Homo sapiens: one gene and its partner. The protein of the gene in region 1 interacts with the protein of each later gene in a biochemical or structural test. Each region holds a gene or a part of one and is shown on either strand. Other genes may lie near its edges. The genes, in order: FBXO15 and SRPK1.

The links.
Region 2: of the proteins of FBXO15 (region 1) and SRPK1, one has a biochemical effect on the other in vitro, tested with the Homo sapiens proteins (one large-scale study listed by IntAct).

What each region holds. Positions count from the first base shown.
Region 1 is NC_000018.10:74,074,555-74,078,574, reverse strand, and holds part of FBXO15 (F-box only protein 15), read left to right. Parts: intron 1-4,020. UniProt on the Homo sapiens protein: Substrate-recognition component of the SCF (SKP1-CUL1-F-box protein)-type E3 ubiquitin ligase complex.
Region 2 is NC_000006.12:35,872,599-35,876,098, forward strand, and holds part of SRPK1 (SRSF protein kinase 1), read right to left. Parts: intron 1,742-3,500; coding exon 1,635-1,741; intron 131-1,634; coding exon 1-130. UniProt on the Homo sapiens protein: Serine/arginine-rich protein-specific kinase which specifically phosphorylates its substrates at serine residues located in regions rich in arginine/serine dipeptides, known as RS domains and is involved in the phosphorylation of SR splicing factors and the regulation of splicing.

The DNA of each region.
Region 1 (4,020 bases):
TCTGGAGAAGGAACCCAGTGGAGAAAGAGATGCTTCGGACAGGATGGGAAATAAGGAGCGAGCTTCTAGAGGTGAGGGGCAGCTGGCCCGGGGAGGGGTGCGAGACCCACTGTGCCGCTGCGGCTGGTGCTGAGGCGGGCCTCTTCCTAGCTGGCTGTCCTGCCTGGGGTGGGCTAGCACCCGGGGACAGGAGGGACAGTGACTGGGGGGCATTGGAAAGGCTGCTGGGGCAGGTCGGGGGGGGGCCTTGAAACCCTCAGGAAAGAATTTGGATTTTGGTGTATCTGTGGATGTTGTTAAAGAGTTTGATGTGCCTATCGTGTGCTAGGCCATGTTTTAGGTTAGGAGGGAATTGGAGAATGCTGGACTTTGAGAACTAGGAGGGCTTCAGAGGAGAGTCAGCTCCCAGCTCTTGATCTGGCAGCAGAGGAGGTGGGAGAGCAGAAAGACTGAGACACCCACCGACGGCTTAGGGCTGTGAGCAGCGTCCTCACCAAGGAGCCCTTGTGCCCCACCGGCCGCTCCTTCCTGACTTCTGCCAGGGTTTCTCCTCCTCAACCTTCTCGCAGGTGATGGGACCCAGGGCTCCACCTCCTTCCTCCCATAGGATCTAACCACCATCTCTATGCTGGTGGGTTTGGTGAGGTTGTAAGTAACACAGTCAAGTGACTGCTAGCCCAGTGGCTAAGGTCGTGCAGGGTGGTGGGGTGTGGAAGATGGATGCACCATGCAGTCCCACCTGCTGTGTTATCTCAGAGGTGCTTAGACCTCAGAGCCTTCTCTCTAAAACGGCCACAGTGGTAATGCCCATTCCAGGAGGGCTCCGGCTGCCTGCCAAAGACAGAGCCATCTGCTGGCCCTCAGTATTGGCTTCAACTCCCCCATTCTCAGCCTCAGTGAGGCTGCAGTGTAGGGTGTTTTTTCTTATTCCCCACCTGCTCCCCACTCTGGTGTCCTCCTCGCAGCCCAGGCTCTGTGTGTGGTGGTCCCTGTCATGCAGGAAGCAGTGGGTGCTGTGGAACAGGCTGTGTGGGGCTGGTCGCTGCTGTTCCAGGACCACTGCAGCCGATTGCCTGGGAAAGGCATCAGGGAGCAAGGTCAGGTGTCTGAGGGGTTCCTGGGTGGTCTCACTGTGTAGCTCATCTGATGTGAGGGGCCTTAGGCTCTGGCGTGCACTCTCCCATCAGGGATTAGTGTGTTTCATGCTGGCTGCTTCTTCACCCATCTCTTCTTTCCTGGTGTTTGCTGCCCCTGATGCATTAGGGCTCCTGCTGTCCTACCTTAGTGTTTAATAACAACCAGCACCTCCATCACTACTCTTACCACCTCCCTCTCATTTTATCACACTCATTCATTCATTCAGCACATAGTGGTTGAGCTTCAGTGACTGTGTGCATATGCAGGTGGCCAGGGGCACGATGCTGAACCAAGCTGGCCTAAGTCCTGCCCTCTTGGTGCTTAGCATCCATCTCTACCTGCACTGGCCGGGCCGAGTCAGTTTCAGCACTGCAGCTGTATCAAGTTCTGCATTCAACACACTGGTGTTTCTGCCCATTGGGTACATGGTCAGTTGAGATGAGAGTATCAGGGAAACTTCCTCAAGGGACTGGTATTCGAACTGAATGCTGAGATGGACAAAGAGAAGATGGGAAGAGGATCTCTCAGCAGGGGAGCTTGGGTGGCTCTTTGTCAGCTGGGGGCATGGTGTGTTCAAGGGTGAAGGGTCAGTGTGGCTGGAGCACAGATGGCAAGATGTGTGCAATGAGGTGGGATGGGCGGATGAGGCCAGGTCAGGCCTTAATGGTAGCCGGAAGGAATTTGGTTCTTTCTTGAGAGCCGTGGAAAGTTGTCTCAGGGTGATATGCTCAGACTCATGTTTTGTAAAGGTTTGTCTTCTGAATATGGCGAATGAGTGGGGAGATCAGTTAGATGGCTGCCTCCTTAAAGGAAGAGCAGTCACTTGGTTTCCTAGTCTGCTTGGCATGCTATCACATATCACCATCAGCTGGGTGGCTTTTAAGCAATAGAAACTTACTTCTTACAGTTCTGGAGGCTGGAAGCACCAAGGTCAAAGCACCAGCAGATGGGTGTCTGGTGAGGGCCCTCTTCCTAGTTCCTAGAGGCACCTTCTAGCAGTGTCCTCACCTGGTAAAAGGAGTGAGACAGCTCTGTGGGCCTCTTTTATAAGGACCTCAGTCCTATTCATGAGAGCTCTGCCCCCGTGACCTAATCACCTCCTAGAGGCCGCACTGCCTAAACAGTCACATTGGTGATCAGATTTTAAGACACGGATTTTGGGACGCACAAACATTCAGACCATAGCACTTGGACTAGGGCAGTGGCAATGGAGATGGACAAAATTAAAGCGATTCGAAAGAGAGGTAAGAACTAACGGGATTGGGTGATGGTTGGCTCGTCAGGGCTAGGAGGGAGGCCCCTAGAAGGACGCCCACATTTCAGGCATGCACAGCCAGATGACTGATGATGGTTCCACCAGTCCCTGGGACGAGGAGTACCAGGAGAGCTTTGCTGGGAGGGTCCTGAGTTTGGGCATAGTCCTGCTGGACTTGAGGGACCGTTGAAAGATCCAGAAGTTGAGTACGCACTTGAATATTTAGGTCTTGAACTTAGAAAAGAAGTTCGGCCTGGAGATAAACTTTTGGGAATCACAGGCATGTTGGTGATAACTTAGGATGTGAATGTAGATGAGTTCCATTTATGGGGAGAGATTACATAGAGTGAAAATAGGGCCTAGGACCAAGCTGTAGGAACCTCAGCAATGGGAGTGGGTAGAGAGCTGCAGGGCTTGTGGGTTCTGGATGCATTTGGAGAGGTAGAATTACTCTTCACTGTTCTCTTGAAAAACTAAACACTGCTGAGAAGCAGACTGACAGATGGTCACTGGATTTAGTGGCCTTATCAAGAGATGTTCGGTCAGATGATGGAAAAAGGATACCAGGCCAGAGTGGTTTGATGAGTGAATGGGTATTAATGGACAAATCCAGCGGAGACAGCTCTTTGGAGAGGGTTGTCTGGGAAGCGAGGAAAGAGCAGGGGCCTGCGGGGCCCAGGGAGGCTGTTTCCCTCTCTCTGCCTCTCTAAGATGGGAGTTACTTGAATGTGTTAAAGACTAAAAGCTGATGGGAGGACAGAAGTAGTCACTTGAGAGGGACATCATGCCTTTGCAAGATGGGCTACGCTGCAGCAGGAGGTTACTGGGCCACACCCGGGAGGAGCAGATGAGAAACACATGTGAGGAGAGGTGGGCGCAGAGGAGCTGGGCTGTGGATCTGCAGTGGGAAGTTGAGGAAAACATCCTTCTCCCCTGTCTGTGAAGGCCGAGGTTCTCTGCAGAGATCACCCTCCTAGCAGGATGCAGAGGGCTGAGGGAGGGGATGAGGTGTTGTTCCATGAGGCGGAGAGGGAGCCACCCAGAGAGCCAGGGTGGGACCGTCAGGCCGAGCTGAGGATGGTGCAGCTGCATGGGCACCCAGCAGCTCTGCGTGCAGCCCTCCCGCTGTGCTTGGTGCTCAGGTCCAGACAGATAGAAAATAACTGCGCTCCTCTGGGGCTGGGGTTTTGCTGGACCTGGCCCTAAGGTGTGTTGCAAGGGGAGTGAGGGAGGTATGTGCATTGGCAAGAGTGTTATTCCAGCAAAGGCCAGTGAAATCTAAAGTGGAAAGGAAGAGGCGGGAGAAGGAAGGGCTGGCTAGTGGGTGGGCTAGGTCCATGGGCAGTGCTCTTCAGGCCTTTTTACATATCCACTGCGGTATGGGCATATACAGACCACACATTCATGTGCAATGAAAGCAGCGTTCATGAAATGACGTTTATGCTTAGTGTATGTAATGCATGCCGACTATGTTCTTTTTCATTTTATTTTGACAAACAGTTGTGTCCTGCTAAATTTACTTCAGGATACATTAATAGGTCATGGCTTGCAGGGTGAAAACACTGGGTAAATCTGAAGTACAGTTGTAGTGGAAGTCATCCAGTGAGTCAGCTGGAAGACGAAGGGTG
Region 2 (3,500 bases), on another chromosome or scaffold:
GCCATTCTGTTGCTTCTGCAGCCAGCCTCCGAATGTACTGCTCATTCACTGACAATAAGATGTTCTCTGGTTTAATGTCAGTGTGGATGATACGGCACTTGGTATGTAAATAATCAAGACCCTGTAACACCTGAATGGAAATAGAGTGGCAGACTTGCAAACACAAAATACAGGCTTTCTGGAGAAGTAAGAGATTATAACATGACATTAAAAAAAAAAAAAAGATATGATAGCGTTTTCTATAGAGAATAAAAGCACCTTTTAAAAAAGCACAAATAAACTTTCTCAGAAAGATTAAACTATGAAAAAGGCAAGAAATTATTTACAATAAAAAATTCTTCAATGTTTTACAAAGCTGATTCTATTTGGAGATATTCTTCAACTATGTACAATGCAAAGACTGAGAATAAACTTCAACACACACACACCCTCTAAGTGTTGTAATGTAGGTGCTGACAGACATTTAGATATCTTTAATTCAAATTTCCTCACTGAGGAAGAATTGAGGTCTCTTGCTGCCCAGTTTGGAGCTCTTTCCAGGACATATAATCCAAACAAATTTTTGCACCTTGAAGTATTAATATTTTCCTGATGGTAAAATCTATACTGTATATTGAAGGCTCTTTAGAAAATTAGAAAATGCCTATGAATCATGCTGTATAAAGAGATGGCAATAATCTGACATAGCAATTATCTATTCATGTAAAATTACTATTTGCAACCAGAACTTCTGGATAAGGGCTCCAATGTTCCCAAGTCAGGAACCTCAGCTTCCCTTTCTAATTATTATAGGAGGCAAACCTGGGGGAAAATGGTTATGCTAAAACATTTAAAAAGAGAATAAGCACAATAAATTCTAAAGGTTGAATGAAATATTTAATTTTAGCAATTAACTTTTTTTTTTTTTTTGAGATGGAGTCTTGCTCTGTCGCCCAGGCTGGAGCGCGGTGGCGCGATCTCAGCTCACTGCAACCTCCGCCTCCCGGGTTCAAGCGATTCTCCTGCCTCAGCCTGCCGAGTAGCTGGGATTATAGGCGCTTACCACCACACCCGGCTAATTTTTGTATTTTTAGTAGAGACGGGGTTTCGCACTGTTGGCCAGGCTGGTCTCGAGCTCCTGACCTCAGGTGATCTGCCCGCCTCGGCCTCCCAAAGTGCTGGGATTACAGGCGTGAGCCACCGCGCCCAGCCAATAACTTACTTTTTAAAACAAAGAATTTTAAAACAAAAATTCTTTTTTTTTTTTGAGACGGAGTCTCGCTCTGTCGCCCAGGCTGGAGTGCAGTGGTGTGATCTCGGCTCACCGCAAGCTCCGCCTCCTGGGTTCACGCCATTCTCCTGCCTCAGCCTCCCGAGTAGCTTGGGACTACAGGTGCCTGCCAAGACACCCGGCTAACTTTTTGTATTTTGAGTAGAGAGGAGGTTTCACCATGTTAGCCAGGATGGTCTTGATCTCCTGACCTCGTGATCTGCCCGCCTCGGCCTCCCAAAGTGCTGGGATTACAGGAATGAGCCACCACACCCGGCCTTAAAACAAAAATTCTATTGGAAAAAATAAAGTCCTGACACTTCAAGAATATTAAAAAATCACTACATAGTCAAGACTAAGATACTTGCTGATTCAAGATACATACTTGCTGAATAATTTTTTTGACACAAGGCAGTGGAAGCCCCTGATAATTGGATTTGATGATCCACTTGAGCAGATGATGCCCCAAAACTTCAAATACCATGCAGATATCTAGGAATTCATTAAGGAGGGAAAAAACGGCACAAAAGAAGAACACGGCAAGACAAGCTGTGAATTCCACCCTATTAAATGTTATGTATTATTTTCTTTCAGTATAAAAAGTTACAGAGCTTGAATGAATAAATATGTAGCTGTTAATATTCTAAAATTTCAAAGTCTAATGCTATAGTCAATGAAAGCATTCATGAAACATTAAATTGTGGGCGGCTGGCTTCATCAATATTATTATGTACATTAAAATACTCAATGGTAAAAGAAAAAGTGAAACCTACATATGCAAATAGTGAAAGAAAGCAGTAGGCTCAAGCCTCAAGCTGTTGATTAGCTTCAGGTAAATTAGTTTCTTCCCTAATATCAAAATTGGTGTCCAGGGTAAAAATTCCCACTCTCACAGCTTCAAAGCAAGGAAAAACAAATTATTCCTTAACTATAGAAGAGATGAATGTACAAGAAAGACTTAAACCTCAAAAACGTAAATGCCAACATTTTTTTTTAAATAGGAAACTTGCTTAATGCTCTGTATTTTACAAAACTAATCTTGATTCCAGTGCCACCATGTGTTGTCCTTATGTATGAACAACCTGATGACACCACACAGCAGGAATACTCTGAGTCTAAAATTGTGCAGGGCACTACAGAGATTTTAGTAGTATCTTGATGTCTTCCACCCCCACTGGCTTCTACATGCAAGTTAAGACATACATATATAGTAATGGTCTAGTGCTCAGACTTTAACATTCTCCATTAAAGGAAAGCCTGAGCTCCTTGGAAAAATGGCCAAATCCAAGGTAGGAAAAATAACAGGGTAAACTTGGAACACCTTGCTGTTCTAACAAATAAAAGAACCTGTCAGGAAGAAACAGGAACCATCTTGAAAAGGATGTCACCAGCCAACATGGAGACTTCTTTTTTTTTTTTTTTTTTGAGACAGAGTCTTGGCTCTGTTGCCCAGGCTGGAGTGCAGTGGCACTATCTCAGCTCACTGCAACCTCTGCCTCTCGGCACTACAGGTGTGTACCACCACGCTGGGCTAATTTTTGTATTTTTAGTACAGATGGGGTTTCACCATATTGGCCAGGCTGGTCTTGAACTCCTGACCTCATAATCTACCTGCCTTGGCCTCCCAAAGTGCTGGGATTACAAGCGTGAGCCACTGCGCCCGGCCAGACCACTATAAAGGATAAAATTATGAGTTAATATATGAATTAAAAACAGAACAAGTCCACACTGATCTGAAAGTAAGTGTGGAGGCAGGAGGAAGAGAAACATCTTCTTTAGAGAAGAAAGCCAAATAATAAATACATAAGGGATTACAGAAATAGAAAATCACCATTTTTACAATCACTATAGTATACTATTACTGATTCAGGTAAGAATCAGTGAATACTAAAACAACTATGTGAAAGACTGTCGGGAAAAAGGATTGTCACAGTGTCAAAATATCATTCCACAGATTGCTTATTAATTACAAAAAGAACAAAGTACCTTTACAACTGGGAAATCTGGAAGGCACTGCCTTAACCAAGTGATCAAACTTACTACCACCAATGATAAGCACAAATTCACACCATGTGCCTTCTAATGCAATATACTAATATGCATTCGAATGCATATTCTAATGCAATAATCCATGTACTATGCTTGACAAACACGGTTAACCTGAATTTAATCATGAGGAAACAATCAAACAAATCCAAACTAAGGTGGCATAAAACAACTAGCCTGGATTCTTAAATTAAAAAAAAAAAAA